5 separate regions of the Homo sapiens genome follow, and all the other regions are linked to region 1. The links come from fine-mapping of genetic effects on gene expression. A gene starts in region 1. Each other region holds a variant in brackets. All regions are shown on one strand. Distances are between the middles of the regions.

Region 1 (6,249 bases):
GAACCCAGAAGGCGGAGGTTGCAGTGAGCCAAAATCACGCCACTGCACTCCAGCCTGGGTGACAGAGCCAGACTCTGTCTCCAAAAAAAAAGAAAAAAAAAAAAAAACTACATACATGACTGTTAAACAACAAATGCAAAACTATTTTGGATTCAGTTTCAAAATACAAAGTAGAGATAATAAGTGCTGTAAAATGTCAAAATATGGAGAGATCAGTGAAGACTCACTTCATTGTGCATACTGTTGCCTTGGCTTCCTTCTTGGGGACAGCTGCTGTGAATGTGACCATATTTTCCAAGCCAGGATTTCAGTGTTAAGGGATGGGCCAGGAGAGGAGTTATGGGGATTTGGGAACGAGAATGGGATGTAGGTGTGAAACTGTAGAGGATCAGTGGTAGAGATCCTACAAATAAAGCCTTTAAGTCTTGGAAACTGTTGAATGTGAAGGTAAAGAGAGAAGTCAAAGATGATGCCAGGTTTTGAGTTTCTGGGTTAGGAAAGATAAAGGTAACTATTTTAAACAAGGACATTTGAGGAGTGCAAAGTGGGAAGGGGTAAAGATGAGTTCAGTTTGGGATATATTAAATTTAAGGCCCTGGTGAGATAGCCAGATGAGCACACGAGTTAGGAAGATTTGCAGTCCCGTGTCCTTTGCTCCATGCTCTGTGGTGTTGGACACCTTATTTAGCTTCTTGAAGTCTCAGCTCCCTATCTGGCAGCCGATACTTCCCTGTAAGGATTAAAGTGAGACAGTGAATAAAAGGGTTTAGCTTATTGCCTGGCAATTAAGTATCAGAAAGTATATATTAATAGGGTGATGAAGGCCCCGCGTGGTGGCTCACGCCTGTATCCTAGCACTTTGGGAGGCCAAGACAGGCTGATTGCTTAAGCTCAGGAATTTGAGACCAGCCTGGTCAACATGGTTGAAACCCCGTCTCTACAAAAAAACAAAACAAAACAAAAATTAGGCCGGGCGTGGTGGCTCATGCCTGTAATCCCAGCACTTTGGGAGGCCGAGGTGGGCGGATCACTTGAGGTCAGGAGTTTGAGACCAGCCTGGCCAACATGGTGAAACCCTGTCTCTACTAAAAATACAAAAATTAGCTGGGCACAGTAGTGCGTGCCTGTAATCCCAGTTACTCGGGAGGGTGGGGCAGGAGATCACTTGAACCCGGGAGGCAGAGTTTGCAGAGAGTCGAGATCATGCCACTGCACTCCAGCCTGGGCAAGAAGAGTGAGACTCCGTCTCAAAACAAAAACAAAAACAAAAAACAAAAATTAGGCACAGTGGAAGGGATCTATGGTCCCAGTTATTCCAGAGGCTGAGGCGGGAGGAACATCTGAGCCCAGGGACATCGGGGCTGCAGTGAGCCGTGATCGCACTACTGCACTACTACACTCCAGTGTGGGCGACAGAGCAAGACCCTGTTTCCAAAAAATAAATAAAAATAGGATGATGATGATGATGTGAGGGTGTCCAGAGTGCTACTGGGCAGCAGGGCCCCAAGCTCTGCTGTAAAGGACCAGCTTGCAGGTGGAGATGATGCAGGGAAATTGGTTGAAATTAGCAAGAAGAGAGTGTGAGAAGGAAAAAAGAAAGTAGCCCCAGTCATATCATTGGCAGAGAACACAAGGTAGGAGAAGGAACAGGAGCTAGAGGAGACTGAGACAGGGGAGCAGGAGAGTGCAGACTCACAAGATCAAAGCGGAGGGGGGCTCAGCAGCAGGTGAATATCCCTGTTCTTCCTAAGGCTTCATAATCTTTTTGTTGTTGTTGTTCCCTAGATGGAGACTTGCTCTATTGCCCAGGCTGGAGTGCAGTGGTGCGATCTCGGCTCCCTGCAACCTCTGCCTCCCGGGTTCAAGTGATTCTCCTGCCTCAGCCTCCTGAGTAGCTGGGATTATAGGCACGCGCCACCACGCCCAGCTAATTTTTGTATTTTTGGTAGAGACAGGGTTTCACCATGTTGGCCAGGCTGGTCTTGAACTGCTGACCTCGTGATCCACCTGCCTGGGCCTCCCAAAATGCTGGGATTATAGGTATGAGTCACGGCGCCTGGCCAGCTTCATCATCTTTAAAAGCAAGTAAGTCAAAGTTAAGGGCAGCAATGTGTTAAGTTACTCCAACGTAAAAGACTGAGTCGAACAGGTAGCAGGTAACTGCACGTCCTCTCTCGCCAGTGTGGAGATGAACCAAGGCCTGGTAGTTCTTCCCTGTCTTCTGTGGTGTCTCCTCCCACACTGCCAAGCCCCTGCCTGCTGTGGCCGCGTACCTTTGGAGGAGAGCCAAGTAGAGGAACTGTTAAAAAAAAAAAAAAAATTATGATACCCAGGCAACACTCACTCCATTTTCATTTCCTGCAATACTTCTGATTTTTAAACTTTGCCTCCTCCTGTCTTGACTTCAACAAATTGGTAACAGTAAGGGTTGCATATGTACACATATGATGGCGGTAAGACTTGGAAAGCATTTGTTTATAATAATCAAGAGGAAAGGAGAAGAAAAGTGAATAGGAGACGGGAGAGCAAGAGAAAGAGGATAGGAAAAGGAGGATCCGAGTCGGGACTAGTTTGGGGGTGGAGAGATGAAGAGTGTGCTCTAGGAAACAGGTTGCTATGGGTTTTTAAAGGTTTGTTTTGCAAACGTTATCCTTAGCCCAAGCTGTCCCCCGTGGGCATCAGTCTTCAGCATTTTCTCAGCCTCCTTGCTGGAGCACTGGGCCTGGGCTCCAGCAGAAAGGGCGAGTGGATAAGGTCGGCAGCTGCGAGCCTGTCTCTGGGGTGCAGTTCTTCTTAAGGCAGCCGACCACCCAAGCGCAGGGCCAGGAGCCAGCTCTACCCGGCTTCTCCAGGTCCTGTGTGTTTGGGGTTCCCTGGCGAGGAAACCCTGGAGTAGAAGCCCTGTGTTCTGGGTATTAAAAACATTAAAAAAAATACGTTAAGACAAATTTGATCGTAGCTCATACTGCAGTTACAGGTTTTAAAAGCTGGTTTCTAAGTTAAGCAGGTGACCAGGTAGGGTGCTTGCTCCCACCCCCATCCCCTGTTCCATTATCCAAGGGGTCTTATCCTGACTTCTCAAGTGTGGAAACACACAGTCACGTGTTCCTTGGGACTGTGGAAAACGTGCACTTTGGGGCTCACAGGGGCTGGCTTTTCAGCATTGACACGGTGTTCTTCTTTCCTGTCTTGTTTTGGTGATCATCCCACACGACTAGATTAACCTGTTGTTTTTGCAAAGCCCCAGGATTTTCCTAAGCGTCCAAGCCGCCCGGCCTTGTCTTTGTTATGAAATAGTCAAAGGGCTTCAAAACTGCAGGCAGTTGCCGCGCACGGCGCCCGTCCTTGGAGGCCTTTTCTCTGAGAATGGAGTTTTAGATTCAGGGATTTATGACTTGACTTTCCCGGGGCCGGCGCCCCTGCGGAAGCGGCGGTGGCTCGGGAGTCAGACCCGGTTCCCACGCCGCCGGGAGCATCCTCCCCGCCATCTGCGGTCGGGTCTTCTCGACAGGGCCCGGCGGCCTTTGCAGGACGCGAGTTGGGGGGCTCCGAAGGCGGCCGGCGCGCCCCCCCGCGCCTCCCACAATCCCCGGCGCCCGGCCCCGCGCCCCTGACCCGGGTGTCACCGCGGAGCTGCGGGAGGCCTCGGCGGTCTTCGGACGCGGTCGGGAAAGTGGCGAGCGCGCGCCCGCGTCCGCGCCCCCGCTCGCGAACGCCGGCTTCGGCCATTTCCGGCGCGGCGCCCTTCGGCAAGTTCCGCAGTCGCCTGTCGGAAATGGCTGCCGGCCGGCAGGGGGAGCGGCGGATCAGGCGCGGCCTGGAAGGCGGGCGGCCGGCAGCCAGAACGGCTTCTGGGACGCCGACTTTCGCGCAGGCGGCGGCGGCGGCGGCGGCGGGTCCCTGAGCTGGAAGCCGGTAGGACTGCTGGCCGCGCGTGAGCCCGAGGAGCGGGGGCCGCGCCCGGAAGGGCTCATGGGAGGGTGCCGGGGCTGGCCCCGAGCGCTGGGGACGCGGCGGGAGGGACCGGGTCCGCCGTGCCCCGGGGAGGCTGCTGCTGCCCGGCGGCGGGAGGCATGCAGCCTCCGAGCGGAGTAGGCCTGCCCGGTGGCTCGGGGGCCCGGGGAGAGGCCGCCAGGCCCTCGGCCGGCAGCCGGGAGGGCTAACGGGTCCCTGGGCTGGGGCACCCCCTCCCCGCCCCCACACGCCCTCTCTCGTCCCAGTTTGGGCTGCTCGGGACCCGCCTCCACCTTTTTTTGGACGCTCGGCTGCAGCTGTTGGGCTTCCTCTGCTCCCTGAAGCCCTCCACCCTCTGTGACCCGCGGCGTTTCTCTGGCTGCTGGCCCGGAGCATCTTCTGTCGGCGGAGGCGCAGCTCCGGACTACCCCCACCCCTTCCCGAGCACACCTTCCCACATCTGCCCCCCGCTTCTACACGCAGTCGCCTGCTGCCCTCCCCGCTGGCTCTTTTTGCCGGGCTCGCCTCCTTTCAGGAGCCACAGTCAGAGGAGCCGCTTCCTGTCCGAGGGTCCAGGTGCTGCAGGACCCTGGCTCCCAGGCCCAGCTCCCCTAGAGCCGGCCTCGCGCTGCACGGGCTGGACCGGACAGGGGTGCGCGGGGCGTGTGTGCGCGGCGGAGCTCCGAGCCCAGCGACGGGGACAGCACCTATTCCGAGCCCCTCGGAGGCGAGCCAGGGCTGCCCGGCTGCTGATGGGTGCTGCTTTCTCTTCCCCACATTGAGCGAGAGCTTCGGCTCCTTTTATTAATAAAATCTGTTTGGCTCTCAGAAGACTTAAATTTTGTGGATTTTGCCCCTCCCCCGCCACCCGCACCACCCCACCCCCGCCCTTCCCCGCAACCTGGATTTTTCTTCCCTTTTTAAAAACTCTAAAAGCTTCATCAAGTCCTCTTGGTTCGACTCCTTTGGTGGAGGAGGAAGCGCAGAACACCACAACATGTCCATTATTTCCCCCATATGTGATTTACTTAAGAGTCGTCTTTAGCATTTCTTGTCACTTTGTCCTATTCTTTGTCCAATTTAGGTAGCTTCATTTTTACTGGCAGAGCTCCCCGTGCTTTCTTTTGTTTTTAAAGGCTTTGTGTGTTGCAGCCATGCAGACTCTGCAGTTTTCTGTATTTTGTTCGGCAGTGAGTCCTGCATTCTGATACAGTGACTATCGCTGTGACCTGTGTGCTGGGATAGTAACTGCGGGGCACAGAGTCTGGAGCGAAGCGAAGCCTTCTCAGCGACTTGCTATTTAGCAGAGGGACTTTGAAATATTTTGTGATGAAAGAAAAACCGTTTTCTTAAACTGTTATTTGATGTGTTAAAAATACCTTATCCTGTGGGAATTTCCCATTCGTTTGCTTGTGGGGAGCCGGAGGAATCATAAGAACTCACGAGCAAGAGAGAATCGAGCCTAAGTGCTTTCTGGAAGAGTCAGAATTGTGGCTCTTCAGACTTCCGGAAACGTGCTTAATGTCCAGAGATGTGAGGGGCATACCTACCTAAAAAATGATTGACAGGCGTATGTCTGTATCCCTCCACTTCTCGCTTTTCTAGTGGGGGAAAACCCTGTTAATACTTGGTGTGTAGTTGGGATCTTTCAGTGATTAGGCCTCAAGAGTTTTGACCTCGGAGTAAAAAGATTTTAAGGGAACAGTTTGGAGAGAAGTAAGTCGGGCCAGGCCGAGCATGGGAAATGTATTTCTAGGAGAGAGGGCAAGTCCAGAGGGTGGTTTGAAGCCAGCAGAAGACTAGAGAGAGACCTGTTCTTTTCCGCAGGGCCCTAGGCCAGCTGTGGATTGGAGGGTTATGGGTGATGAGGGGCTGCAGGAGTGATGCGGAGTCCTTGTCTCAGTTGAGACTGGTGGTCTTCTGGAGGAGGGTGGGAGGGATTCCCTGATGTAGACTCAGGTGTTAGGAGAAAAATGAAGTCCCATCAGACCTACTCTTGGTAAAGGTTCGAGCGCCTTTGTATGTTACTCTAGAGTGAGGCGAGGAATATGAAACCAGGACGTTTCATAACGTCCTAAAACTGCCTACTCCATTCGCTGGTTATTAAGTTTAGCTCAGAAAACTTCTATTAACATATTTCTATTTTATTTTTGTTACCCCTTCATTTCGGCAACTATCATTTCGAAGACTTTCAATGATAGGGCAGCTGACTGAGAGGGAAGAAAGGATTTTTCACGTTTGGAGGTTTCATGGAAATAGCATAGCCCAGGCAGAGAGAGTTTGTGAGCTCAAGAG
Region 2 (6,249 bases), 52 kb after region 1:
AAGATAAATTTAAAGACACTTCTTCCCCATCTTTCTTTGTGAGGCGTCCACCCCTCCCTGCTCCCCTCCATGGAGCCAGTGTTTCCAAAGGCCCCCAGCCCGCTTTGCAGGTGTCACTTCTCCAGCCCATTTAAAACCCAAGTTCATGGCTATCTTGCAGGATTTGCTTTTTCATTGTTTGGCCTCTGAGGATTTCATTCATTCATTCATTCATTCATTCATTCATTCATTCATTATTCATTGTTTATTCATGCATGCATGTATGTATGTGAGTGAGTGACAGGGTCTCACTGTCACCCAGGCTGGAGTGCAGTGGTACCATCATAGCTCATTGCAGCCTCAAACTCGTGGGCTCAAGCAGCCTCCCATCTCAGCCTCCCAAGTAGCTGGGACTACACCAGATAGCTGGCCTGCTGCCACACGCAGCTAATATTTTTATCTCTTGTGGAGATGAGGTTTTGCTTTGTTGCCCAGGCTGGTTTTGTACTCCTGGGCTCAAGCGATCTTCCTGCCTTGGCCTCCCAAAGTGCTGGAATTAATCACCAGGTAATTTCATTTCTTATTACAGGCTCTGCCCTGTATTTAAAGAGATGGTTTATGTATTTCTTCTTGCATGTTCAGGTGTTCTGAGGGGTTTTTATGCCATTCGGCCTGCCACATTGTAATGAAGCTGTCCCTCTTCATACTTTTTTAGTTAGACATTTTCTAATTAATAATAATATGACTAGACTGTAGTATGGCCACTTTCCCATGGCTTTAAATGTAGTTAAGCATCTTTTTTATGGACAGTATTCAAGAATGATAGCCCCTCTTTGACTAGCCCCTCTTTGGGTAGTCTTCAATACCCAAAGCCCCTCTTTGGGTAGTCTTCAATATTTTGATTCAAAACATTGATGAAACAAACAACTCGGTACCTACCTATGGCTCTGCAACCAAGTACATACTAGGAGTAGACTTACTGAGACAGCTGACACTACACACGTTAAGGCTTTTGGCATCTGAGAAGCGTAGGCCATCTCAACAGAATACCTGACAATGTTCTGGAGACATCTGGTAGGCAGGAGGCCTGGGGCCGGGCTCTGGTTCCTGCCATGCTCTGCAGGGATGTTGCCCCTGAGGGGATCAGCGTCTTCACCATGGACATGGGAGTGTGGGATCGGCTCAGCTGCAAGGGTTCTGTCAGTATTAGCTGGGATTCCCACTCTGTCTCTCTCTCCCGTTTCCAGGTGACCTCACGGTGGACATTCCGATGCCCAGGATGCCCTCAGGCCCTGTCTCATGATGACTCCCACTTCCACGAGCGGCACAAGTGCATCAACTTCTTCGTGAAGGTGTACGGCTACATGCCCCTCCTGTACACGCAGTTCAGGGTGGATTCTGTGCTCTTCAAGACACGCCTGCCCCATGACAAGACCAAGTGCTTCAAGTTCATCTAGGGGCAGCGCACGGTCTGGGGAAGAGGATGAGCAGAGGGAGGAAGATGGCTCCCAAGGTTCCTAGGCATTGCAGGACCTTGGGCACATCTGCTGGTGGGTGGCCCAGAGCCTCTGCTGGAAGGGGCAGCAGGAGGAGTGGAAGGAAACCGCTGCCTTTATCTTGAAGTCAGCCACACTGGGCCTGGAGCCCTGGGCGGAGTCCCCGGGGTTCCCCACACAGGGCACTGACTGATAGCTTACACTGAGGACTGTGGCGACTCTGCAGAGTCACTCACACCGTTCGTACGCCCAGGACAGCTGGTTCGTGGTTTTTACATTCAATAACAACTATTATGATTATTTAAAAAGAGAAAGTTTCAGATTTGCCATTCAAGGCTTATTTATATATATGTGTGTGTATATAAATACATGCACACACTTGCATACATATATATTTTTGGCTGGGGGAGTGTGAGTTTTGCCTTTCTAAGGGAGGGACCGCGCAGGCTCCTTTGTTCTGTATTCTGGCGGAGATGGGTCCTGGCCTTGTGTCACTGGCTTATCCTTAAAGATCATCTCCCATCCTCCCCAGCGCCATCTGTGTGCAGCAACCAGAAAGGGATGAACTTGGCCCTCTTGCGGGCCTGGACAAGGTCTCTTCCTTACCCTTTCTGTTGCCAGTCAGCAACCTGTAACTCACATTCTCTTCCCAGTGAATCCCTGGGAGCGCCTGACCCTGGTGGGCTGTTCAGCTTCCTGCTGCTGGGGCCAGC[G/A]ATTTTTGAGGATTTATCTTTAGGCCAGGCTTGCCTCCGTACTTATCCCTGCTCTCCCATTTCTCTCTTGTTTGAGAGAGAATGAGGAAGCAAAGAGTGAGAAAGAATAGGGGCTGAAGACGCCACTCCCAGATGGCTCTTTCTATCCTGCTCTTCTGTTGAAACACACGTGCTGTGGGCCTCAGGCGTTTCTGAAGTGCTCTTTCTTGGATTGGACAGGAGATCAGCAGCGTGCACATCTGCTGTGGTCTGAAGTGGTTTGCAGGTCAGCCTCCTCTCCCTAGTGTAGAGCAAGCCAGTGTCCTTCGAGGAACCCACCCGGCTGGCCGGGAAGTTTTACAGCAAGGCGCCTGCCTTGGGATAATTCCTTGGTGAAATTCACCTTCCCCCCGCCTCTGTCTGGAGCCCCATCCTGTGTTATCTGTGGTTTTTGGACCCCTAATGTCAGCTTGGCTGTAGGACTCCCCGAGGTTTGGTATGTGCTAGAACAATGGGAGGCTGTGATTTGCTGTGTAAGCTCACATCCAGCCTTGGAATCTAACGGGCATTCACAACCCGAGTTACCACTTTCCACTCCCTGCTTAGGATTCTGTTCCCTGGGCTGAAACTGAAATAAGCTAATTTTTTGGGTCACGGTGGCAGTAGGGGAACCTAGGAGGGTGTGAGTGGCATTTGTCAGGGATTTAGCCCATGACGTGTTTCTTGAACCCTACTTTCTGGAAGTGGAGTTGACTCTGGAAGTTTTCTAGCAACTGAACAAAAGCTCAGGTTTGTCCTGGTCATGCACATGCCTTAAGCCAGTTCCGTCTTCCCTAGACCTTGGCATCCTGTGCTTCTATTTCTTGGAATACGTTCTCCTCTGACCTGCCTGTACCACGTGGGTCCTCTTCAAGTACTGTTTTGAAGCTGGGCTCTTTTGTGTAGCTCCCACCCACCTGTAGGGCTAGCTCGGCTTAAGGGAACTCTCCCCATTGGCAAACCGGACCCGGCCGCCGCCAGGACTGTGTTTCCAAAGGTTCCCCGCCCCCAACCCCAGCATCAGCCTGTAGCTCCCCTGCTGAGGCAGTGTGGTTATGTTCCCAGCAGTGGGGGTCAGACGCCCTTCCTCAGAACTTTCTAGTTGCCCTCTACCTGACTCCTGACTTGTATTCCTTTTAGCAGTAGCCTTCTTCCCTCGGGGAGCCAAAGAGTGTGGTGTGTGGCGCTATATTGTGGCTGCTATTTCATCTGGTTTCTTTTAATGTGAGGAACTCACATACTGACTTCAGTGGGACTCGGTGAGCCGGGGCCGTCTGTGTGGTGGGACCCCCTTTAGCGGGACTCAGTGAGCTGGGGCCGTCTGTGTGGTGGAGCCAGGGCCTCTCCCTTTAGTGGAGCCAGGTTGTCGGGCCCCGAATGTCACTGGTGGATCTAAGAAGGGCTGAGTGGTCTGACACCAAAACATGCCGCAGGGAGGGCTGTGGTGCCGGTGCTTCCAACAAGGACAGCCCTCCTTGACCCTGAAAGGAACACTGGCTTGAAGGACTGCAGACAGGCTCTGAGGGGCACGCCCTCCTCAGCGAGAGGCAGCAAGGTGGCCACAGTGTCACTGGTCAGGTGCTTCTCACCACGGGAAAGCCGCCGACCTGTGACTCGCTTGAGATGGGAAAGCGGCGCCACAGACCCCGGGTCTCCTTGGCTGTCTGTGGGCCGCCCCTGGCCACCTTGTCCTGGCTCGCAGGGTGCAGGAGCGCCTCGTTCTCTGGGTGGCCGGCTTGCTGCTCCGGTTTGGGCTGTCTTACCATAACACCGTCCCAGGGCTCTGCAGGCCACTGTGAGCGCTGGCTCCCTGGGCAGTGCTCCTCCGTGTGGACTGTGCCTCAGGCCAGGGCTCACCAGCTGGGGTCCTGTCCGGAAGGATGGGATCTTTCTGGGAGCTGCGCCGGACAGAGTGGGGAGCTCCTAGTTTGTGGGGGGAAGCTTTGATATCCATGCCACGTCCATCCACCCCACCCCTTTTCGTCACGAGCACAATGGTCTTACATTGGATTTTTGTAAAAAAATAAAAATAAATGGAGACTTTAACTCAAGCAGCTTGGAGGTCTTTTGTGGTTTTCCTCAGCAAGTATGGAAGAGTGACCTGAGAGAAGGCACCTGCTTGATTGCTTGATTCCAGGTCGCCACCTGTGTATGCCAGCTGGGCCTGCTCGCAGAAGACGATGGGAGGCAGCCTGACCAGGCCCTGGTGTGGGCTGTGGACCAGAGATGGGTGAACAGACTCACACTCACATGGGCAGCCTTGCCTGTGCCCGGTTCCAGGGCAAGTCATTTTGACAAAACAGGAACTTAGGGGCTGTTGAGGTGCTTTAAGCAGGATGTGGAAGGGCATGTGGCCCATATATGCAAAGTTAATTTTTTCATGGGAATTTAAAATGCGTGTGTGTGTGTGTGTGTGTGTGTGTGTAGTGGTTGTGGGGAGCTGTGTGTGCCTGCGATCCCAGGACAGGTGAGGCCTCACTGTGAATGGCTCGATTCGGTCCATAGGTCATGCCCCTGACCTATAGGTCACTAAGGCACCTGTACCTGCACCGAGCTGACGCTCCCTGACTGCAGAGCCCCATCCTGTTGGTGCCCACAGGCCTAGATCTTGTGCTTGGCTGTGGGATCAGAGGCTTCCTCAGGAGAGGGCACTGAGCTGTGGGCTTCGGGGAGAAGGATGGAGATGGGAAAGGGGGTAAAGGCGAGGACTCCTCTCCTGGGCTCTGCAGGTGGCAGCTTTGGTCACACTGACAGTCCTAAGAATGGGTGAGACTTAACAGTCGGTGTCCCTCCTCAAGTGGGGTTCACGACTGATCAGGCAAGTTTGCAGCAGCTGATGGGTGAGATGTCATCGAGGGGCATTCCTCTTTGGGTCTGGAGTTTTGGCTGTCAAGCTCCTGTTCTTCCAGCCATCCATCTCCATGTTACGATTGTCCTGGGACCAGAGAGACTTGAGAAGGTGGCATGAGGCTGTAGAAAATGTGTCTTCCTATACACAGAGATATGATGTCTGCTTTGAGTCTATACCTGTCGAGTTGTGTCTTGGACTTACGGTCTGCCAAGGTGGTAAATGTTAGCTGTTGATGGGATCATCACTGAAGTGGAAGGCTCCACAAGGTTTACAAAATGTGTTAAGAAGAATGTTGATGGTGGTGTGTGGTGCCTAACATCTTAATCTCAGCATTTGGTGAGGCAGAAGTGGGAGGATCACATGAGGCCAGTTCAAGACCAGTCTGGGCAACATAGCAAGACCCCCATCTCTACAAAAAAATTAGAATGTTATGAAGATACTGAAAAGAAGAAAGGAGAATGTAGTGGGTAAAGGTCTGGGCCCTGGAACAGACTGGGTGCAGATCTTGGGCTGCCCATCACACTGGTGGAGAGCAAGTTATCTATTACTATTTTAGGCTCTAATCCCACCATACGGTGGCAAAAGTTGTGCCCATCTCTTAAGCATATGTTAAAAGTTAAATAATATAATATACGTAGAGTCCACTGTTTGACACAATAAAAATGAACTATTACTGGAGTAAAATAGTGTCCACTTCTTCATGGCTCTTTCTGCCTTCCGCTAGGTTTGAGCGCCAGCGCCTGGCTGAGTGCCCTGCTCACCTCCTATTAGAGCCCCCACGCTCTGTCGCCTCACCATGCTGTGTGCTGGCCACTGCTCTGCCTCCCACACCGGACTGCAGCCTCTCAAGAACACAGGAGTTCCATAGTTTTCTCATGAATGAATGCTTTGACAAAGTGAAGAGGGTCACTTAGAAATCACAGCTTAGGCAAATTGTTTTACCTTTCTTCATCTGTCTTGACGTTTATGAAAGAGTACAGGCTGGGTGCGGTGGTTCACGCCTGTAATCCCAGCACCTGGGGAGGCCAAGGCGGGTGGATCACCTGAGGTCAGGAGTTTGAGACCAGCCTGGCCAAAATGGCGAAACCCCTTCTCTACTAAAAATACAAAAATTAGCCAGGTGTGGTGGCACGTGCCTGTAATCCCAGCTACTCAGGAGGCTGAGGCAGGAGAATTGCTTGAACCCAGGAGG
Region 3 (6,249 bases), 86 kb after region 1:
GTTTCTCATGGGCATTGGTAACATTACCAAGGGTTGACTCCCTCATGCCCTAACAACGACAAGTGCACCTGAGGAACCCTCATGGTACGACCACAGTCTACTCACATTCCTAACTCTAAATGGCACCAGGTCATTTGTGACAGGTGTGTGAGTGAGAATGTGATCACACTCCTAGAAAACAAGCTCTACAGCAAGGCTGACTGCAAAGGAAGCAAAACAGACATTCAAGAGCAAAGTCCACCACAAGATGTTTTGCCACACTTAATTTTCTGACATTTTTATAATATTTCTAGCCTGTGTTTCACTATGGCATTGACACAGCTTGCAAAAACCCTGGCTGCCAAAATACTATTTAGACTACAGGGACCAAAAAATAACTTCTTCAAAACCTTCTACTTGGCATCCTGGTTCATAAAAGACCTATCCTTTACAGTATGAAAACAGCAATTACATTTAAAGTAATTAGCAGGACATTTGTTGAAATACGTGTTAGTTAACTATAAAACAAAACAACTAAATCCCTAAACATATCTATCTGCACTGACATGCTGTAAGTAAAAACAGTCTACCTGCCTTAGTTGAGGAGGGGTTATAAATATGACAATCAAAGAAATGAGTGTGGGGAGATAATCGCAGTTAACATGGATGTATTATAACAGTACAACCATCAAAAGCAGGGAATGAACAGTGACACAACACTGCCCCCTCTCATCTACACACCCGATTCAGACTTTACCAACTGTTATCAATGCTCCTAATAGCAAACAAACTAGATCTTTCTTCTTCCATTTCCAGATCCAGCCCATGGCCATGGAGTACATCTATCTGTCACATCTCTTCATTCTCTCGGCAGTTCCTCAGTCTTCCCTTGTCCTCTAGGTCTCTGACATTCTCAAAGGGTACAGGTCAGTTATTTTGTTGAGCATCCTCGACTTGGGTCTGAATGCTCACTAGATTCAGGTGAAGCATTTTTAGCAGCAGGATCACAGAAATCATGCTGCTTTCTCAATAATTTGTGTTAAGAGCCACGCAATGTCAGTTAGTCCAATTACTGGTGATGTTAACGTTGACTGCATATGTCAAGTTTGTCCAAACTCCAGTTACTATTTCTGTCTTTGTAATAAACATGACTTTTGTGGGGACATACTTTTTGGGACTATAAATGATCTAGTTCTTCATAACATTTTCACCCACTGGTTTTAGCACCCACTGGTGTTTCTTGCAGGAATAAATTATTACTGCGGTGGCTGCCAAATGGTGATTTTCTAATTCTAAGGTTCTTTCCTATGTTAACTATGAGTTTACTGTTGGAAGAACTTTCCCCTCTTGCCTATGTACTCAGTTACCTCACTATGGATGCAGGAGTTTCTGTTATTCAGTGGATTATATTCATTACTAGCATTATTTATTTTGATGTTCCAGTGACCTCAGATGTGGCTTCTGACATGTCCCCATCTTTCTCTGAGCATACAGCAAGATCTTACAGCCTCATCTTGTATTTTCCAAAGAGGCCTGGTTCCTTTTAGTGGAGAATGGTATCTAGAAACCAACATGTGGGAGCTAAATGTGTTCCTCAGTTAGTGGCATGTCACTGCTCCCAGGCCCTCTGTGTGGCCAGAGCTGGAAGATACGTATGTGCACAGACACACACATACACACACATGCACAAGTGGATTTCTTTCTGTATCTACATATATTGAAAATAGGAGTTCACACCAATACCATCAATTCTATCCAACAGCACAGGATTCATTCCAGCCTTCACTCTTTCCTTATATCTAACTCTGTACACCTTGATGGATTTTTTACAAGGTGAACACATGTACATCAAGAAATAAAGCATTACTAGCTCCTCAGAAATCCCTCTTTGTCCCCTTCCTGTCACTACTGTCCCCTCCCCTCCAGGATCACTACCACACTGGCATCTAATACCACAGATCAGTTTATTGTGTTTTTGAACTTTTATGTAAATAAAATCATACCATATCTACTCTTTTATATCTGGATCTTTCACTCACATTATGTTTGTGCAGTTTATCTACACTGCATATAATTGGAGCTTATTTGTTCACAGTGATGTAAGGGACTGTGTGAGTATACCACAAAATCCATGCTATTGTTGATGGGAATTTGAGTATATTTCAGTACTATTACCAAAAATTTTAGATTTTTTTTTTTTTTTGAGACAGGGTCTTGCTCTGTCACCCAGACTGGTGTGCAGTAAGTAGCACGATTGCAGTTCACTGCAGCAGCCTCGAACTCCCTCAGCTTCAGGTGATCCTCCCACCCCAGCCTCTAGGGTAGCTAGAACTACAGGCATGTGCCACCACACCGGGCTAATTTTTTGTATTTTTTTGTAGAGACAGGGTTTTGCCATGATGTCAAGGTTGGTCTCAAATTCCTGGCCTCCAGTGATCCTCCCACTTCAGCCTCCCAAAGTGTTGGGATTATAGGTGTGAGCCACCGCACCTGACCAAATTCTAGATTTGTGTGTGTGTCTTTTGGTAACATCTCTATGCATTTCTGTTCAATGTATACTTTAGGAACAAAACTGCGGAGGCATAGAGTACATTGTTCAGCTTTAGCAGATACTGTCAGTTTTCTTTTTTTCTTTTTTTGAGACGGAGTCTCACTCTGTGACCCAGGCTAGAGTGCAGTGGCGCGATCTGGGCTCACTGCAAGCTCCGCCTCCCAGGTTCACGCCATTCTCCTGCTTCAGCCTCCCGAGCAGTTGTGACTACAGGCACCCGCCACCACGCCTGGCTAATTTTTTGTATTTGTAGTAGAGACGGGGTTTCACTGTGTTAGCCAGGATGGTCTCGATCTCCTGACCTTGTGATCCACCCGCCTTGGCCTCCCAAAGTGCTGGGATTACAGGCGTGAGCCACCGAGCCCAGCCAATACTGTCAGTTTTCTAAGGTGGTGATACCAATTTAGAGAATCTTTGAGTGAAAATATAACCAAAAATGAGGAGTAACTATTGTCTGTTAGCTTCATTGTAGTAGAGCAATAATAACATGAGACGCAGAAAAACGTTCATAATATACCCTTGGGTGAAAAGAACCTGACAACAAAGCTAGGTATTCAGCTATATAGAAAACACCCATTTGTTCTGTGAGGGAGGAAGAAGCCTTTTATTTGTTGAACTGAAATGTTATTTTCGTCACTAAAAATGTACATATATGACTGACATAACTGGAAAGAACACTCTGACAATACATAAACCCAATTTAAAAAGGTAGTAATATGTATCGAAATACAATTCATCATGCAGTCAGTAGAACAGAAGCAGGCTATGAATTGCATGAACATGGTACAGGCT[G/A]AGCATCCCTAATCCAAAATGTTCCAGTATCTGAACTTTTTGGGCACCAACATGATGCTCAAAGGAAATGCTCATTGGAGCATTTTGATTTCAGACTTTCAAATTTGGGATGCTCAACCAGTAAGTATATTCCCGAATCCCAAGTCTGAAACAATTCTGCGGTCCACAACATTTTGGAGAAGGGCTGCTCCACGTGCGCAATAGAAAGTGTTAATAGGAGGAAAGCAAGTGAAGCTTGAGTTAAAATACTTCCCTGTGTCTGACTTGGGAGGCAAAGGGGTCTACAGGTTTACACAGCAATCTATTTCATCTAACGACCTGCTGTCTGCATCTGCATCAGGTTATCCACATTGCTTCCTTCCCATGTCCCAGTGATTTTGTTTTCTTACCTCTGCATGAGGAAAAGGTGGTTCTGGAAGATACACCTTACTCTGTTTGTTGTGACAAAGCCTATTAAAGAGGAAAAACACATCAGCATGTGAGGAAGAGCATACGGTGGCATCTGTTGCCACCTAGTGGCAGCAGTGCAAATATTAAATACTGAAGTTTATTTAAAAATTTCCCGCCAGTGAATTTCACTGTGAATGAAATCCAGTGCCTACAGAGAAGAGATGTATCTTGTATGTTTTTAAACTTTAGAATTTCTCAATACATTTTTTCTTAAAATATAAACTTGTTATTTTGGAATAATTTTAGATTTAAAGAAAAGCTGCAAAGACAGTACAGAGTTTCCATGGCCTCTTCACCCTATGTCCCCAGAGTTAACATCTGATATGACTGGCACAGTCGTCAACTAAGAAATTAACATCAGGCCAATGACAATCAACTAAACTCCAGACTTCATTCAGATTTCACTAGTTTTTCCAATCATGTCCCTTTTCTGTTCCAGGATCCAATCCGTGGTATCATATTGCATTTAGTTGTGGTCAATTTCACAAAGAAAGTGATCTACACCTTGAGACATGGCTTCTGTTTTTGTCCATGCACTTTTTTTTTGGAGACAGAGTTTCGCTCTTGTTGCCCAGCTGGAGTGCAATGGCGCGATCTCGGCTCACTGCAACCTCCACCTCCTGGGTTCCAGTGGTTCTCCTGCCAAAGCCTCCCAAGTAGCTGGGATTACAGGCACCTGCCACCACACTCGGCGAATTTTTGTATTTTTAGTAGAGACGGGGTTTCACCATGTTGGCCAGGCTGGTCTCAAACTGCTGACCTCAGGTGATCCACCCGCCTCGGCCTCCCAAAGTGCTGAGATTACAGGCGTGAGCCACTGTGCCTGGCCCTCACACTCTTTTTAACAGCAGCATTGGTAACTCCAACTAGAGAAGAACAAAGGATCACAGGCTAGAGACAATGTGAATGTTTTTGGTAATTTACATTTGCTTTTTCCTAGTCAGTTATGACTTTACAATACTGAGATGTCTGGATAAAGCAAATGTGGCAAAAAGTTCACAGTTGATAAATCAATATATGTGGGTGTTGTGCAGGTTTGACATTTAAAAAAATAGTCACTACTTTGAGGGGAGGAGCTCAGGACTTCAGGGCTTGGATTTTGTATTAATACATTGTATCTAATTTTTCCTACCCTTAGTTTCGTTTAAGTTTGGTTTAAAAAAACATCACTTTATACCCTACTTGGAAGATATAAATATGGAAGAGCAAGATGCTTTTGGAGGGTTACCTTATATTATCTAAATAGACACTAGTTCTGTCTTTATTTCTAGCTCAGGGAGACAAATATAAGAGCTTGGTTCTAAACTTATTTTGATTGTTCCAAAGGACATTATCCTACATGCATTAAAGGCAGAGATTAGGGATACAGAAGAGATTACAATATGATTAGAGATTGTGAAGCCCACCTACATAATGCTTAGGCCAGTTCTGCTAACAGATCCTCCATACTCTGCTCTAGAATCCTCATGCAGGCACAGCAGACAGGGACCCACCCCCTTTCTAAGACAGAGGCTGAAGGACCTGATTAGAGTTTGCTTCTTCTGGGGGTAGCTGTTAGAGTTCAAAAGGAGATCTGTGTATACCAGATTATCAGGAAGAATGAAGAATAAATGGCGCTTCTAGGTTTATCTCTAATTGGGAATGTGACAGACCCTCCTGCTCCCTGATGGCCAGACCTCAGGTACCGCACACTCTTCCACTGCTTGTTCAAAAAAGGATCAGAGCCAGGCACTGTGGCTCAGGACTGTAATCCCACCACTCTGGAAGGCCAAGGCGGGCAGATCACTTGAACCCAGGAGTTCATGGGTTCAGACGAGATGCAACCTTGTCTGTACAAAAATTAGCTGGGCATGATGGTGACACCTGTAGTCCCAGGTACTCAGGAGGCTGAGGTGGGAGGATCGCTTGAGACCAGGAGGTTGAGGCTGCAGTGAGCCGTGATTGTGCTACTGCACTCCAGCCTGGGCGACAGAGTGAGAGCCTGTCTCAAAAACCAACCAACCAACCAACCAACACTCCAAACCCCAACACTCCAAACTCCAAAAGATCAGAGAGGTCTTTCAAGAGCTATTCCCTCCCATCTCCATCCCCTGCAAAAACAAAACCAACCCAAACAACCAAGCCCCTTAGCTCGGAGCAAGGGCAGACACTGGACAGCAAGGGGCTGGGCTTCTGCAGGCATCAAAGCAGGACCATGTAGAAGCCAGAGCAGAACCCCTGAGAACGGGAAGCACAGAGCCAGGGAACCAGAGTGATAGGGAACAGCAGGCCGGGCCTGAGGCTGAGCACAGAGCAGCCAGGCTGTGAAGCACCCGTTCAGAACACCAAAGAGGAGAGGAAGCCAAACCCTCAGCACAGGCTTGTGGTGGTCCTGGCATGGGGGGCTGGGACTTGCTAAGTTAATGCAAGTCTGGAGCTAGCAGCTATCCATTTTGGTAACTGAGTTCCTTATTTAGGGAAAAAGGGTGCCTTACAGC
Region 4 (5,000 bases), 37 kb after region 1:
ATCTGTCTTAAATCCATCTGTAAAGAATGATTTGACACATTTCTGAAAAATTAGAACATCTGTTCTTATTCTCCCCCACCCAGCCTCTCACATTTCCTTTGACCTCTTGCTTAGTGTATTATTGAACCAAGTCTATTGACAGCTGTGATTAAAAAAAAAATCCTGGTAAACCGAGGTGTATTTTTTTTACACGATAATAGTAGCTGACTCTCTCCACTTGTTTTTATGAAAGGAAAAAAGCCATGCAGTAACTCCAGGCATGATCTTTGCTGCTGCAGGTGGTAGTGGTGGGGGTGGGCGGTAGGGAGTGTGTTTATGCTGCAGCGTGATGCAGTTTGGAGCGTGCCGAAGGACTGGCGTGGTGAGCATAGTCGTGGAGTGTTAACAGGAGAACTGCCAACCCTTAGATCCAAGAATGATTTTGATAAGGAGCCCAGCTTTAAGGAGTTTGAAGCCTATTAACATAGCTGGCATTAACATAGCTTCCAAGCCCCTGATTTAGGGACTTCTTACCTTGCCCGTGCTATTTTCCAGCAGATTTGCAGGTGGTGAGAGAATAATGGGAAGCCTTTTAATGTGTCTCTTAACTGTCATTCATGTTTGAGATTTAGCCTCTGGTAATGGAGCTGGTGAATTATCATTGCTGTCTATACATCCTAACCTTTTCCTACCCTGACCCTTTTCTCATGCATTTGGGCATCCTTTGATCTAAAACCTTTCTCTTATTAATCTCCCCAATTTGCTTATTTCACCTTAATGGGAATGAAACAGACCTAAGTTCAAAGGAAAGGGTAAGTCTAAGAATTCTTTCTTCTGGCAAAGATAGATCTTGACTCACTTCAACTTAGGTAGCCAAGAAAGAGGCAGATACAATCAATCATAAGGGACAGAAAAGGTATACCAAGAGACTTGAGAGCATGTGTCCATACAGAAAGGAATACACAAATGGCCAGAGCAGCGTTATTCGTAACAGAAGTGCAAACAACTCAGAGGGATAAATACTGTGGTTCCATTATGTGAGGCCCCTAGGTAGTCATTCATAGAGACGGAGAGTAGAATAGGGGCTGCCGGGCTGTGGGAAGGTGGGAGTGGGGATTAGTGTTTAATGGGGACAGAGTTTCCGTTTGGGAAGATGAAAGAGTTCTGGAGATGGATGGCAGGGATGGTTGCACGACACTGTGAATGTCCGTAATGCCACTGAACCATACATTTAAAAATGATTAAGATGGTATATTTTATGTTTGTTTTGCCACAATTTAAAAAAAATCAGTTGTCTAAAAAAACCCACCTAGAAGGCTGTTACATTGTGATAGAAGTTGTGATTTCTCCTCTTTTGGATTAGATTAGATGCTTCTAGACTTATTAGGAGAGGAACTCTGTTGAAATAAAATCTTCTGTGTCTTAGGAACTGAAGTTCCATGTAAGTGATGAGGGAGTTTGCAGGCAGTTTAAATCTCTGGCAGCCTTTCTGCAGGCCTGTCAGGTCCTGTGGAGCTTAAACGCTTTCAGTTCTCCAATTTATCCTGTGAAACTGGGGACCAATTTTATTTGTTCTAATTTACCTATAAATTTGGAGATGATATAGAAGTTTCTACTGAAACATACTGAAGTCTCCATTTATTTCTTCCATTTAATGAAACCTTTCAGTTGTATGGTTCTGTAGGCCACTTCTCATCATACATGTTTCTCCGTCAGCCCTGCTCAAATTTGGAATTAGGAGTGGTGCAGTTCAGTAGTCTTCTGTGGTTAAACCAGTGCTCTCTAAACCTTTTTATTATGTTCCTTCTCTGTAAAAGAAAAGTGTGCAATATATGTAAATTACATACATGTCCTTCTGAACTAATATGTCATGCTTATTAAAAACAAAGCCTTTCTTAGAAAATGCTTGTTCATTCATTCATTTTTAGAGCCAGATCTTGCTCTGTTGCTCAGGCCAAGGGAGGTGGTGCAATCATAGCTAACTGCAGCCTTGAACTCCTAGAATCAGGCAGTCCTTCCACCTCAGCCTCCCAAGTAGCTGGTAGTACAGGTGTGCTCCACCATACCCAGCTAATTACAAACAAAAATTTTTTTTTGTAGAGACAGGATCTTGCTATGTTGCCCAGGCTGGTCTCCAGCTCCTTGCTTCAAGCAATCCTCCTGTGTTGGCCTCCCAAGTGCTGAGGTTACAGGCATGAGCCATCCCACCAAGCCCTTTCTTGGAAATTAAATAAGCTAAAAAAAGAATTGAAATTGATATCATCTTTCTGCTGCTTAGTAGATTATTGTATATACCCCATTCTGGAGCCCTCCTTAGTAGATATTGTACATACCCCATTCTGGAGATCCCCTTTCCAAACTTAGGGCTTATTCTTTCTGGAAGGGCTGGAGGATGCTGACTGCTAGAGGGACAATGTGCAGGTGCTTATTAAGGAAGCTGAATATGATACCTTATTTGCTTTTATCCTGTTTGGCTTGTTGTTGATTTTGTTTTATTTTGAAAGGATACGAGAAGTAAAAGCCTAAGGGCCAGAGCTTGTAAGGTGGAGGCAATAACTGTGAACACTTCTGATGACCCTAGAGCTCTGTATTCAGGTCTGTGTATGCACTTGTGTTTTTCAAGGGTGTGGAGAGAAGCTCGGGACCGCATCGTGGGCTTCCCTGGCCGTTACCACGCATGGGACATCCCCCATCAGTCCTGGCTCTACAACTCCAACTACTCCTGTGAGCTGTCCATGGTGCTGACAGGTGCTGCCTTCTTTCACAAGGTAAGAAAAAGCTGGTAATAATGGCATCGACTTGGTGAGAGTTTCACCTTTGTGTGGTAGCGGAATGCTGCCCTCAGCTTAGCTCTCCTAACGCTTCTTACATGTTTCTTTTGTGCTAGAAGTCAGTTTTTTCTATTTTTACAGACAATGATCAAGATGCTTAGAGCAACTCTGGGATAAAAAGTCAAGATGAGAGGGCTGCCTGTACAGTTGCACATAGGCCATTTGGAAACCACTTTATCTTTCTGGGCGTTGGCTCTCCGTTTGTAAAACTGAGGGCACTGGGC[T/TA]AAAGACACCTCAAATACCTTCCAGTTTTAACACTGCCACCCTAGATATGGCCCAGCCATCAGAAGGTGACCTGGGCACTTTTCTGACTTAGATATACCATGCCTGTCCCGGGCCCCACGATGAGCCTCTGTGTGGCTCTGCCAGTTCTTTGTGATGCTTTAGTGCTTATTACTTTCACTGTGCCTCCTAATCTGATTTTCACTGAATATCTGAAGCTTAGGACCCTGCAGTCTTTCCTCCTCTACTGTTCTGTATTCTGTTTTTTTCTCCTGGCCCATCTTCCCTCTCTACCTCTTCCATCCTGTAAAGTGGCCCCTGACCACAAGTGGCTGCTGATCACCTGGTGCATGACTGGTCAGAATGGAGACGTGCTGTTCAGTGTAAAGTGCACAACAGCTTTCAAAAACTTGTAACAAAGGGTGTCAGATAGCTCAGTAATTGTTTGTGTTGATTGCATCTTGAAATGCAGTTAGTTTGGATTACTGGGTTAAATACAGTTATTGATTTTTACTGTCTCTTTTTACTTTTTAACGATGTAGCTTCTAGAAAGTTTACAGTGCTGTATGTGGTTTGCCTTCTGTGTCCGTGAGTGCCGCTCTCTACCTCCCTCCTGAAGTGTTCCCGGGCCCTGAGGAGTCCCTGTTCTAAGATTACCCTGGCATTACCCCCACTGCCCACCACACAGAGCACCTCTTCTGTGCCCTGAGTCTTCTCTGAGGACAGTGCTCCCATTAGCCTTTTCCTGTAGACTTTGAGGCACTCATTTCCCCACATCTGTGCTTTGGCACAGGGCAGGTGTAGGGAACATTTTCATTGCTTACCAATGACACTTCCCTCCCAGCTGTCACATAAAGTCTCATTTGCAGCTCCTGTCGTCTGTCTTGCTGCCATCAACCAGCCTTTTCATCGTGCCCTGACAGTCACCAAAGACGGTGGCACCTGCCTCCTTCTCTTTGTCTGCATCCATGCCCTCCATGGTTCTGGTGCCTCCACTGTCCTCACGGAAGACCCTCCCACCACTCTCTCTGCATGAATGGTGAAGTGTCCCGGGGTCTAGCCTCTGTTGCTCTTCTTATTTTCCCTAGGCGTTCTGTCTCACACACAAGGTTTTGAGGCTTTTCTTAGCATCTGCAGGCTGGTAATTTCCTCATCTGTATTCCAGCCTTGGCCTTTCTTGCTGAGGTCTGCGTTTGTATATTTCATTGTTTCCAGCATATCTCCCGTTTGTCCCTCAGACACTTCAGGTAAACTTTTCCCAGGAAAGCTCACCGTCTCTCCCTAGCTCCTTGAAGTCTTTTCTCCCTTACATATCTCCCATCTCAGATGGTGGCATCTTGCCAGTCACCTCAAATAGAACAATAAAATTCATTTTTATAGGGACTTTTTTAATTTTTTAAGACAGGGTCTCACTGTCGCCCAGGTTGGAGTGTAATGGTGGGGTCTCAGCTCATTTTAGCCTCCACCTCTTGGGCCCAGGTGACCCTCCTGCCTCTGTCTCCTGGGTAGCTGGGACTACAGGCACGCATCACCACACCTGGCTAATTTTTTTTGGTAATTTTTATAGAGATGCAGTTTCGCCATGTTGCTTAGGCTGGTCTCGAACTCCTGGACTCAAGCGATCTGCCCGCCTTAGCCTCCCAAAGTGTTGGGATTACAGATGTGAGGAACCGTGCCTGACATATAGGGACGTTTGAACCAGCCTAAGCAGTCGTTAAACTTTCAGCTGTTCTTTTTCTTTTAAAAACTTAATGTGTGAAGTTGATACACTCATCCCATTCTTGCACTTCACCTCAGGACTTCCTTTCCTTCGGTGGGCCTTGTTTGGACTGAGGATTGCAAGTAGAGTCAGAGGATTAGGGTGTCAGCAACTGGCCAAGATTTTCACACTTGCTCAGCTAAGAAGGAGCCACTGATCTTAGCAGCGTCTACTCATACCTTGAGGATGTACTTATCTTCTGAATTGCC
Region 5 (6,249 bases), 71 kb after region 1:
CTGCTCCAGAAGAAAAGAAAGAGGTGGGCTGGGCAGACTGCACATCTGTGAGATCTGTAAATGACACTTCACAGACTCGACTGAACTTTCTAGAAACTGACACGTCTCAACACAATTCTTCAGACTAGTCATAGGCCTATGATAGTGATAGTTTCTTATACTTGAAAAGAGACCCTAAACATGCAAAAGCTCATGCAAAACAACAGAATTTCCACAACCTGGCTAAGCTTTTGTGAGTTCTTTGAGGGCACGTCCAAGCACTGTGTTCAGGAGTCTGGGACGCTCAGCTGCTTGCACCATGCCGTTCCCTGGTGACAGCTCCCTCCTAAGTTTCAGCTGTCTGAGCTCCCAGGAAAATGCCAGGTGACACCAAGATACCCCTGTGGGACTTGGCAGAGCCCTCTCAAGAGTGAAGGAGAGAAGGCAGCAGTGCAAACTTCTCAGCTATTGCTAATGCTAAGGACAGAAATTCCTTACAAATCAGACGTGACATGGAAAGGAGGCATGTGCCTGAAACAGACACACAGCAGGTGAAGGGCCTCGGTGTGGGGAGGCCACCTGTACTTCATGGCTGCAGGCTCCCCTAGGGACTTGGACAGGTGCTTGCTCCTTCTGCAGAGAGGAGCCGGGGTGGAACACTGGGTCAGGACATAGGCTGGGCCAGGCAGAAGGTCCTCATCTTAAGTTTTTAAAAGTCCAGCTTGAGGCCCATTAACAGGGCCCAGGAGCCCTGCAAGGTCTTCAGGGAGGGTGGAAGAGAGCCGCAACCACCCAGCCAGAGCCTTTTTCCCTACGGGAAAATCAAAGACAGGTGGAGAAAACCAATCCTAGGAAAGGGAAAGCCTTTAAGATTTGAAAGTCGGCAACTGTGATATTTACATTGGATAGAAAGTTCATAGAAATCTCCTTCCTTGTAATGATTGTAATTTGTTGCAGTTCTTGCAAGCAGCAGCATGAACAGTATTACCTTTAGCCAATTCCTTCTTCCTATCAAAGATTCTATAATCCTAATAAAGTCATCTCTGAAGTCCTGTGACTGAAGCCAAAATTACAACCTTTAAGGTTAGATTTTTTTCTTTTAATCATAGTCAAGAAATCTCATCTCTGGGAGAAGCAGCCATCAGGGCTGCTGAGACAGAGGGGAAGGGCCAGTGTCCCCTCCCCCGACTGCCTCCTGCAAATCCTGACAGTCGACTGGAGACTTGGCTCCCCTCTGACAGCAAGGAGTCATCTGTGGAAGTGCAAGACTCTGGCAGGGCCGGGTCCCTCTTTGTCCTGGCCTCACTACCCTGCCCCACTCGTCACATGTGTGTGTGGAAGCAGCTTTTTCTTCAGTCTGGAGAGGCCTTCTGGTGACCTCGTGCTGGGAGGAAGGATGGGGCACTCCTCACTCTGCTTTCTTTCTCCTGGGTCTCCCAGCAGGACCTTAGACCAAACAGATGCCACAGGACAGTGGGGACTAAGTGACAAGCAGCAACATCCACTCCCTGCAGCCAGGGGGCCATAGTGAGCCAGGGAAAGGCTGCCACGTGTGGAGTTTTCACGGCACCAGCGAAACCAGCTCACCTTCTCCAGGGTCTGCACGAACTGCTCCACAGGGATGGAACCGCTCAACAAAGGCTTCAGGACTTTGCAGTCTGGTACGTCATCGCTCACCCGCTTTCTCTTCTTCCCGCTCGTGGGCTGGGCGGGCCGAGGAGGGGGCTAGAGCAGAAGGAAAGAGTGGCTTTCATGAGCTTCCTCTGAGCAGCAGGGGCCACCGCAGGCCACACTGAGAGCCTGAGACTATCCTGTCCTCACAGGCCACAGAGCCCCGGCCCGGTTTCCTCAGCCGGCACTCGGTTCAGGTTCCCTGGCTGCCGGGAGCCCCAGATCCACGCGCTCTAATGCTCAACTGTCCAGCCTACCAACACCTTATTCGCTAAGATCTCTGCCTTCTATCAAGATCCATTTTTAAATTTTCAGGTGGTTCACTTCAGTATCTGCTGAGTAAATTCTCCAGAATACACTGTGTCGTGCTGCAGGTACATCATGACCCCGTGGCTGGGCACACTGGCTGTGGGGTCAGACCAAAGGGGGAAACCCCACCTTTGCCACCATCTGGCCAAGGTTAGAGAAGCTGCCTACGAAATGATGACAGCAGTGAATTCTGACGGCTCAGTAAGACAAGGCGGGTCAAGGACCCAGCACAGGGTCTAATAGACTTTAAGTGGTAGCTAGGAGCAACTCTACATGTGGCATAAAGGTGACACAGTCCAGATCTGAAAGGAATTCTTAAGACACAGTGCCTGCCCTGGAGCTGAAGTGCCACCCACCTGTGTGTGGGTCATTGGTAGGACCAGGCTCTCAGGTAGCCACAGCCTCACGCAGGTGCCCTCCGGTTCCAGCCCCCAAGGGCAGGGCTGCACCTGCCACCCTGCACGTCTCCCCACAGCCCTGCCTCGCGTGGCAGCGCTCCCCAACAGAATGTGCCTGTGGCAGCCCTTGGGATGACGTGCGGCCTCATCTCTGGGCACAGCAGCCTCTCTGAGGCACATGGCCAGGGAAATAATTCTTCAACAAGAATTCACATGAAGCGCTATTTCAAATATAATCTGTTAGGTGGTCTGGTTTCTTGCTGGGGAGAGGGTCCCCTGCACTCCCACCCAGCACCCCCTACCTGAAGCAAGTGCTTGTTATCTTTGGTGTGCAGCACGGCCGAGACAGTTGCCAAGGAGATGCCAGGCTTGATCTCCATGGGCACCAGTGAATCTGCGAGCTGAAAGCAAAGGGCGCAGTTCAGGCTGGGGGCCTTTAATGATGACCATTACTCTTCCTTTAATCTGTATTTACATCACTGCAGTCTAAAAAGATGAAATAACTTTAAAGGTAAACAATTTTTTTTTTTTTGAGATGGAGTCTTGCTCTGTCGCCCAGGTGACACACCAAGTGCAGCCTTTCATTCATTCTGGCCTTTACTTCACCCTCATCCCCTCTCCAGGTGACCAGTGGCAGGAAGGACGGGGACAGCAGCATGGCGGTTGAGGGAGCTCTCTCTTCCTGAAAGTCTGACTTCTCCTGATGGTGGGAGCCACGGCTTTACCTGGGGGGTGGTATCTTTCCGACCACCTGCACCTGATGGGTGCCCTGCCGTGCAGCCTGACCTTATTAGGTGCTCTGTTGCTGGGTTTAGCTGCATGGTTTTTAAGACATGTAGACCCCTACCTAGCCAAGCCACCTTTATTTAAAAACAAAAACATGCAAGAGGCCATTATGTAAACATGAAGATCAATACCAAACGGGCAGAGGAAGCAGCTTAGGATACTTAAGCAGATTGGCAA[G/A]TGGTACGTGAGGCCTGTTTCATGAAATAAGAAAACGGCCTATGGCGAGCGTGAAGCGGCCCTTGCCGAGGAGCAGGGTGTGCGCCAGATCCCGTTCTTCACCTGAGGCCTCCTCCACACAGGCCCCTCCTCCCTGCACAAGGCTGGGGTGGGAGCTTTGGGGATGGCGTTCTGCGCTCTCCCTGGGCAGCCATGCACTATTTCCAAGACGACTCTGAAGGAGTCTTTTTTTTTTTGAGATGGGGCCTCACTCTGCTGCCCAGGCTGGAGTGTGGTGGTGTGATCATAGCTCATTGCAACCTCAACCTCCTGGGCTCAAGTGATGTTCCCTCCTCAGCCTCCCCAGTAGCTGGGACTACAGGCATGAACCACCACGCCTGGCTAATTTATTATTTTTTTGTAGATACGGGGGTCTTGCTGTGTTGCCCAGGCTGGTCTTGAACTCCTGGCATCAAGTGATCCTCCTGCCTTGGCCTCCCAAGGGCTGGGATTACAGGCCTGAGCCAATGTGCCTGGCCATAATGTCCATTTTAAAGGCAATTACTGTAGCAAGTTGGATTGAGACAGTTACCTCCATTAATGATCAAAGACGTACAGTTTGGCTGGGTGCGGTGGCTCACGCCTGTAATTCCAGCACTTTGGGAGGCCACGGTGGGCAGACTGGAGTTTGAGACCAGCCTGGCCAATATGGTGAAACCCCATCTCTACCAAAAATACAAAAATTAGCTAGGATTGGTGGCATGTGCCTATAATCCCAGCTACTCGAGAGCCTAGGGAGGAGAACTGCATGCACCCGGGAGGCAGAGGTTGCAGTGAGCCAAGACTGTGCCACTACACTCCAGCCTGGGCAACACGGCAAGACTCCGTCTCAAAAAAAGACATAGGGCCGGGCACGGTGGTTCACGCCTGTAATCCCAGGACTTGGGAGGCCGAGGTGGGTAGATCACAAGGTCAGGAGATCAAGACCATCCTGGCTAACACAGTGAAACCCTGTCTCTACTAAAAATACAATAAATTATCCAGGTGTGGTGGCAGGTGCCTGTAGTCCCAGATACTCGGGAGGCTGAGGCAGGAGAATGGCGTGAACTCAGGAGGTGGAGCTTGCAGTGAGCAGAGATCTCACCACTGCACTTCAGCCTGGGCAACACAGCGAGACTCCGTCTCAAAAAAAGAAAAAAAAAGACATACAATTTAAAATTAGATAACAGTGTATACTTATATAACTGGAAAAGACTTGAATAAAATTGGAAAATAACTAAAAAAGGACAACATTCAATATTAGCAAGGAGGCAGAAGTAAGAGCTGTCTCCAGCTCTGCTGTGGGAGTATAAACTGTCACACTCATTCTAGAGGACAAGCTGGCAATATATAGCCTCGAGCCAGAAAGGGATGTTCATAATCTTTGACCCAGAAATTCTAACTTCAGAAAATTTTCTTATGGAAATAAACATATATGGACAAAGATTTATGTAAAAGGATGCTCCTAAAAGTGTTATTTATAACACAGAAAAACCAGAAATGAAAATCTGTGAAAAAAGGGGCCAGGCGCAGTGGCTCACGCCTGTAATCCCAGCACTCTGGGAGGCCAAGGCGGGTGGATCACAAGGTCAGGAGATTGAGACCATCCTGGCTAACACGATGAAACCCCGTCTCTACTAAAAATACAAAAAAATTAGCTGGGCATGGTGGCGGGTGCCTGTGGTCCCAGCTACTAGGGAGGCTGAGGCAGGAGAATGGCATGAAGCTGGGAGGCGGAGCTTGCAGTGAGCCAAGATCGCGCCAATGCACTCCAGCTTGGGTGACAGAGCGAGACTCCGTCTCAAAAAAAAAAAAAAAAAATCTATGAAAAAAGGAACTGTTAAATTATGACAGACCATTATGCAACCATTAAAGCTGAAGCTTTTGAAATATCTTTTTTTTTTTTCTTGAGACGGAGTCTCGCTATGTTGCCCAAGCTGGAGTGCAGTGGCGCGATTTTGGCTCACTGCAACCTCAGCCTCCCGAGTAGCTGCGATTACAGGCGCCTGCCACCACGCCTGTGGCTAATTTTTGTTTTTTTATTAGAGACAAGGTTTCATCATGTTGGCCAGGCTGGTCTTGAACTCGTGACCTTAAGTGATTCACCCCCGCCTCAGCCTCCTGAAGTGCTGGGGTTTACAGGCATGAGCCACCATGCCCAGCTGAAATATATATTTTTTGAGACAGAGTCTCGCTCTGTCATCCACGTAGGAGTGCGGTGGCATGATCTTGGCTTACTGCAACCTCTGCCTCCCGGTTCAAGCAATTCTCTGCCACAGCCTCCAAGTAGCTGGGATTACAGGTGCGTGACACCACGCCCAGCTAATTTTTTTTAGTGGAGATGGGGTTTCACCACCTTGGCCAGGCTAGTCTTGAACTCCTGACCTCATTGTCCACCCGCCTCGGCCTCCCACAGTGCTAGGATTACAGGAGTGAGCTACCATGCCTGGCTGAAATATCTTAAATGATATAATGTACTTACTGATAGGTGAAAAAGACGACAGTGTATGAGGTGTGATTCCAGTAGGCACACACACAGTGAACAGACAAGGCAAATACATCAAAATCTTAACATTTATCCCTGGCACTGGGACTGATTTTTGCTTTTGTCTTTATCCCTTAGTTATGTTAACATATAATAGGTTTGTATTATTAAGTGAATATTTTTAAAATGTCTTAGTTTTAATTTCTCATATAGCAAACATCAATAGACATAACCCACATAAACAAAACCTCTTTGGAGTTCTATTTGTAAGGATGTCTGAGACCAAAAGGTTTAAGGAATGCTGGCTTAGAGAGTTGAAATCTAAACCAAGGCCGTCAATCCCAGCCCCTGTAAAATACCAGACAAAAACAATCCAGAGAAAGTGAAAAAATCATAACAAAATGATAAAAACATATTAAACATTAA

Direction of the effects. Positions count from the first base shown, and alleles are read on the strand shown. Sizes are in standard deviations (SD) of each study's normalised expression. Not every link is listed here.
For the expression in tibial nerve of the gene that starts at base 3,757 in region 1, G is the low allele of the variant in region 5 and A is the other (small effect, 0.17 SD a copy in GTEx).

The links. PIP is the estimated chance that this variant, and not a neighbour inherited with it, causes the effect. A credible set is the group of variants that fine-mapping cannot tell apart.
Region 2: its variant is the best candidate, but not a certain one, in a credible set for the expression of EXTL3 in whole blood (TOPMed, PIP 0.82).
Region 3: its variant is the best candidate, but not a certain one, in a credible set for the expression of EXTL3 in whole blood (TOPMed, PIP 0.56).
Region 4: its variant is the best candidate, but not a certain one, in a credible set for the expression of EXTL3 in atrial appendage (GTEx, PIP 0.53).
Region 5: its variant is the best candidate, but not a certain one, in a credible set for the expression of EXTL3 in tibial nerve (GTEx, PIP 0.89).

The regions. Positions count from the first base shown.
Region 1 is chr8:28,697,745-28,703,993 of GRCh38, forward strand. It overlaps EXTL3 (exostosin like glycosyltransferase 3), which reads left to right and starts at 3,757. Exons shown (of 7, transcript NM_001440.4): 1 at 3,757-3,915. EXTL3-AS1 (EXTL3 antisense RNA 1) reads right to left here and starts at 3,720. Exons shown (of 3, transcript NR_126027.1): 1 at 3,616-3,720; 2 at 1,697-2,299; 3 at 659-730. RefSeq lists silencers at 3,496-3,675, 3,746-3,815, 3,916-4,325.
Region 2 is chr8:28,749,431-28,755,679 of GRCh38, forward strand. EXTL3 (exostosin like glycosyltransferase 3) reads left to right here. Exons shown (of 7, transcript NM_001440.4): 7 at 1,227-6,169. The coding sequence ends at 1,436. Among named protein-coding and RNA genes, the nearest start is that of EXTL3, 51 kb to the left of the region's middle. RefSeq lists enhancers at 2,343-3,287, 3,288-4,230. The variant G/A (reference allele first, on the strand shown) is at 2,189.
Region 3 is chr8:28,784,118-28,790,366 of GRCh38, forward strand. INTS9 (integrator complex subunit 9) reads right to left here. Exons shown (of 17, transcript NM_018250.4): 11 at 3,712-3,772. Among named protein-coding and RNA genes, the nearest start is that of EXTL3, 86 kb to the left of the region's middle. RefSeq lists an enhancer at 5,805-6,249. The variant G/A (reference allele first, on the strand shown) is at 3,323.
Region 4 is chr8:28,734,917-28,739,916 of GRCh38, forward strand. EXTL3 (exostosin like glycosyltransferase 3) reads left to right here. Exons shown (of 7, transcript NM_001440.4): 5 at 2,603-2,747. Among named protein-coding and RNA genes, the nearest start is that of EXTL3, 36 kb to the left of the region's middle. The variant T/TA (reference allele first, on the strand shown) is at 3,035.
Region 5 is chr8:28,768,323-28,774,571 of GRCh38, forward strand. INTS9 (integrator complex subunit 9) reads right to left here. Exons shown (of 17, transcript NM_018250.4): 15 at 2,660-2,758; 16 at 1,567-1,704. Among named protein-coding and RNA genes, the nearest start is that of EXTL3, 70 kb to the left of the region's middle. The variant G/A (reference allele first, on the strand shown) is at 3,321.